2 separate regions of the Homo sapiens genome follow, and region 2 is linked to region 1. A link means that fine-mapping ties the variant in region 1 to the expression of a gene that starts in the linked region. Tissue or cell type: whole blood. Region 1 holds a variant in brackets; the other region holds the start of a gene. All regions are shown on one strand. Distances are between the middles of the regions.

Region 1 (2,761 bases):
TCCATGCTGATACCTGTGTTTGTTGGCTGAATCCCTGAAAGCTATTCCTTTGTCTCCCTCTTCAAGTACTGATTTCCAGACAGCCACCTGACCGCCACCTGAGCTCATATTACTGCCCCTTGCCTAGGAGATCTTTGTATAGCTCCTAACTCTGAAGCTTTGTGGCCAAAGGAAGTTATTTATGCCATCTGTAAAAGAGGGAGCAAAATGGCTGCCTCTTATATTGTGTTCCACAAGGGTGCTCAGGAAATTTATGAAAAATCTATTCCAGTGACTGCTGAGATATGAATGTTGAACTCCTAATGGCTGCTAATGGGCGATCTTATTGCACTCTTCCTGTTTTCCTTACCCCCAAGTGGTCAGCCAGCATTCAGAGAGGGTAAGAAAGATGGGGGGGTTGGTGAATAATGATTGCCGGGTAAACCACCAGGGACTGGGTTTGATAATGCATCCTCACTTGGAAATGCCTGAGCAGGAAGCACCTCCGAGACATAGTCCAGGAAGGCCCCAAAAAGCTTTCCAGGTAGAGATCGGTGAGTTTCTATGATCCCCAGAACCTGGGAATCCTCCTGACAACTTTGTATTGTCCTAGGGTGCTTGATTTATCTGGCTGAGTCCCTTACTTTTATATAGACCAGTTTTCTAAAACTTGAGGGCAGATGCTTGTCTTCTACCATAAAATGCTGGTAAGAAAGAGATTTCACAACCCATTCTAAAATTTAATTTTTCTTTAGTCTTCCAAAAATATGAAAAGTCACTAGTTATACTTTCTCATGTAGTAAATTCCAGAACTCCCTTGTCATTTGATACTTACAATACCTTACAAGGAAGATATGCCAGAACCATGTGGTAATAAAACCTTTTTCCATATATATATTGGTAATGTTCCACAAACCAAATCAGCTTTCCTAATACAACTTTGTACAGCGATCAGATACATTAGGCCTATCACTCACCACTGAAAAAAGACAGTGGTGGCTCACACCTGTAATCCCAGCACTGTGGGAGGCCGAGGCGGGCAGATCACGAGGTCAGGAGATCGAGACCATCCTGGCTAACACAGTGTAACCCTGTCTCTACTAAAAATACAAAAAATTAGCCGGGCGTGGTGGCGGGCGCCTGTAGCCCCAGCTACTGGGGAGGCTGAGGCAGGAGAATGGCGTGAACCTGGGAGGCAGAGCTTGCACTGAGCTGAGATCCCACCACTGCACTCCAGCCTGGGCGACAGAGCGAGACTCTGTCTTAAAAAAAAAAAAAAGACAGTGGTATCCAACAATTATCATATCAAATACTTGATATATAACAGTTC[CTT/C]TTTTTTTTTTGATATATTTAAGAGAGAATAAGAAATCCCCAACCATGTTAAATTCTTTACCAAGAATCACAATAATTTTTTGATCCCTAGAGAAAGGTGATTTGACAGCAGGAAATCTGACCTCTGGGGCTACCTCTCCCCTTTACCTACTCATAATCATTTTGGTCAGCAACAACTGTTGTTTTTCAGTGTTTTTCATAAAGACAGTGCAGAAGCTCAGGGCAATACCAGATGATGGCAAAGACCAAAATAATACAAAATACTCAAGCAAAGGCAAACATTAAGGGCCTTTGAAATTTCCGTCTCTGTTGCCTATTCCCACTCTTTCCACCCACATCTACTCTCCGTGATGCAATGAAGGCCTGGGTATGTGGGTAGTAATGACTGCATAATTCTATCTTTAAAAAAATCTATTGAATTAAGGAAGCTGCAGAAAATGAGGAAAACTTATTGAAAACCATCAGAACGAAAAGTTCTCAAACCCAAGTAAATTGCTGCTGAGGCTTATCATTGATGATGTTTCACTTTCTTTATGTGGTTAATTGCTTCCTGCCTCCATAGATGATTTTATCCATCTTTATCAGCTTTTGTTTTGTTATTAGTGCCCAGGCATTGGCATGGTTCATCTGGTACTCCATTAGACTTGTGGCAAGCACAAAAGCCAGGACTAAAGGAAGAAAATTAATTGCTTACCCTGCTAATATCAATTCATTTTCACCTTCTTGCTTTGGCCTGACTTCACCATACTGTTGACAAGTTATATTTTTCTTGTTAGTTCTTTGATCCTCAAAAGCTAAAAATCAGCCCAGATAGATGAGAAAGAAAAGACAGCATTAAAACCACTGTTATTGCCTCTGGTGAGGTATGTAGTTTTGGGCTAAGGCACAGCCCTTCTGCCCAACATGAACAGGCTGAGATGAATCTAAGCCAATTTTGATGAATGGCCAGCAGAAGACAAGATCTTGGAGTTTCTTTGAGCAAACCATAAGAAGCTACTCTCTAAATTTTGCTGACTTTATACCAGAGCTCTTACATGCAGAGGCACTTCTCAGCTCCAGTTGATATAGCCTGGAGCAGTGCTGCCAGAGGTAGCAGTGTTGCCCCTAGACGTCACTCTCTCCATCGTTCAGTAGTTCCCAAAGGACCTTCCACCACTCCAGATCTACATGACAGATACCTCCAGAGTCTAGAACTTGAGGGTCAGGCGGCTCTTCCTCCCTCTAGAGCCCACCAGTCTGGATTAGGGTAAGCCTATGGGCTAAGGAGGTCAAATACACTTGACTGGCTCCATTTATTCCATCACGGGCCATGCTAGGAGCTGTCATTTTAGGGACACACAGGAACATCACTGTCTCTGTCTTTCAAATGGCTTTATTTGCTGCTTTTGACTCAGGACTAGGTTGGCCAGATGTAATAAGTAAACATATAGGATGCCTAGTTAAATTTGAA
Region 2 (2,500 bases), 200 kb after region 1:
CTGTGCACTCTCGGGGTGACTGAGCCCCCTCCAAGGAGCCCCGCCCCAGAGGCCCCCCCTAGCCCTCCTGCGGGGGCCTGCGGGGGCGCTGTGTCCCCCATCTTACCGGACACAATGATTGCTGCCTCTGGGATGGTGAGGTGGAAAGAGGCTACTGCTGGCTATTGCAGGCAAGTCTGTTTTTGACAATGTGAGCTCAGTGTTCAGGGCCACATGAATAGAGGTCTTCAGAGGTTGTGGGGGAGCCGTGGAGAAGTTGTGGGGGAGGGGAGTTAGTAAAAAGAGGGTGGGGAGAAAGAATAGAAACCAACTGGGGGGAGGATAAGTTGGAAACAAACCCTGATTAACTTACTCTAATTGCATTTGACAGCTCTGGAGAAGTTGGACAGAGTTGGTGGATTTTTTTTCCTCCACCAAGCTGACAAGAGCCACTAGGTACTTTGTAAACACACGATCTGGGGGTTAGATCAAGAATTCAGGGATTGTCCAGCAAGAGACAGAAACACACAGCAAAAGGTATTGAGAGAGGTATTAATAGAGAGGACTCCCCCTCACCTAGTTGTTTCCGACAATTCTTTATGGGGATGTTTCTGCAGAGAAACACATTTCTACCATGTCTATGTAACCAGCAGCCTTGACTTTTCCTCAGGTTAAATAAAAAACCAAAACAAAACAAAACAGTGCTGTTTCAGAAGATGTTTAAGTCACTGTTCAAAATGTGCAAAAATCAAGGGAGACTGTCTTTTGGCTTTTAATTTTTCCTCCCTTTCCTTTCGCTCCGGTGTTTTCTCCTCTTTGGGGTACTGTAGGATGTTGTCTTCTCCCAAAAGAGGGAGACAGCTTTTCAACTGTTAACAATGTCAGTAATTGGACTTTTGGACCATGCTTTTTTCTTCAGCTAATCCAATCACCGGTAAAATCCTCACTCCCTCTAAGGTTTCCTAGCCTTAAATGAAAAGCAATCTTAAGTCGCTAGCCACTGAGAGAGATCCTTCAACACATTTTTTTCTTTCCCGCTTACGTTTCTATTCCTCACCCCCGGCTCTATTCTAATACAGTATCAAGAGAGACAAACTCTTCCGAGAGTAATTTACAAACGATGGTCAAACTTACAAACTTCCAGCAAATTGCACCGAGTCATGTCCAGCCACTTTTCTGTCCACTTTTGTACATTCCATCCCCGGCCAGTGGATCTGAGGGTCTGGACTCGCAATAAGCAATCTGGTTCTATCTCCTGTATTTGCTCCGCTTTATAGATGGAAAAAAAAAGTAGCTTGTATTTTCCTTTCTCTTTCTCGTCTGTTGTTAGCCGCTTTGCTGACACTGGCTCGCGCCCGGAGTCACGGCGATACACAGGCTTTCATTGTGCTCCGATAGGAGAGGGAGAGAAAGAGAGAGAGTGAGACAGAGAAGGAGAAAGAGAGAGCCAGCAAGCTGCAGATGGGGGTGGGGGGGCGGGGAGAGGGCGGGAGAGCTCGTTCGAGGCTCCCTGGTGGAAGGCTGGTGCCACTGCGCGAGTGAGTAATCGCAGCCAGGCACCGGGGAAAGGGGAACGCAGAGGGCCTCCCAGTGGCTGAAGAGGTAAATCCCAAGCCCTGCGCATCTCAGCTGCCCTGGCTCAGCTCAGCATCAGACTCGGTTAAGCGGGGAAGGCTGGGGAAATTCCCCAACCTCTACACAACCATTTCACCAGCTCTAAATGTTTAAGAAATTCCGGGCCAGGAATGTGTTTTCCCTTTCAGCCCTACATTACGCCCCGCTGAGGATATCATTTTCATTTTTCAGTATATTGTAAATGACACCACTGAGCAACCTAGCACGAGCTGTGTGAGCACCGAGGAAATGTTCATTAATAGAATAAGGAAGATATGAATGTGTGTGTTGAGGGCGGAAGGGGTTGCGCGTGGAGAGGAGAGGTAATCACATTGTTAGCTCCTAAAGGGCAGGCAGGTGTAGCGTTTGTCTACCTGCCTGCCCATTTGTGTGTCTCTGGATAAGTGAGTCTGGGTGATCACAGGCAAATCAGTTGGGATAAATAAAATATTTTATGAGAATGATACAATTATCGATACCAGTTCTAGAAAAAAACGCTTTTTTTTTGGGAATGCATGATTGCCTATGAAAAACCAAATATAAGACCTGAAGTATCCTTAGCTACCTGGTGCACATATACAATGAGGAAAGTCAATGTGTAGCAGCTGAGTTTCAAAAAGTTTTTTTTTTTTTTTTCTTTTAATGGAGTCTTGTTATGTTGCCCAGGCTGGAGTTGAACTCCTGGGCTCAAGTGATCCTCCCACTTGAGCCTCCTGAGTAGCTGGAACTACAGGTACTCACCACTACTGCACCTGGCTCTGAGTTTCAAGAAGTTTAATAATAGAAACCAAATAGATCTCACACAGATCATTGTTCCCCCATTTTCAAGTGATCCAACCTTTAAAATATCCAATCCTGGCCAGGCACAGTGGCTCACGCCTGTAATCCCAGCACTTTGGGAGGCCAA

Evidence for each region. PIP is the estimated chance that this variant, and not a neighbour inherited with it, causes the effect.
Region 2: it holds the start of MAML2, and the variant in region 1 is fine-mapped to the expression of MAML2 in whole blood (INTERVAL, PIP 0.93).

The regions. Positions count from the first base shown.
Region 1 is chr11:96,138,233-96,140,993 of GRCh38, forward strand. All of the region lies in intron 1 of MAML2 (mastermind like transcriptional coactivator 2), which reads right to left. Among named protein-coding and RNA genes, the nearest start is that of MIR1260B, 200 kb to the right of the region's middle. The variant CTT/C (reference allele first, on the strand shown) is at 1,310.
Region 2 is chr11:96,341,795-96,344,294 of GRCh38, forward strand. It overlaps MAML2 (mastermind like transcriptional coactivator 2), which reads right to left and starts at 1,401. Exons shown (of 5, transcript NM_032427.4): 1 at 1-1,401. The coding sequence starts at 101. RefSeq lists silencers at 18-277, 1,395-1,584.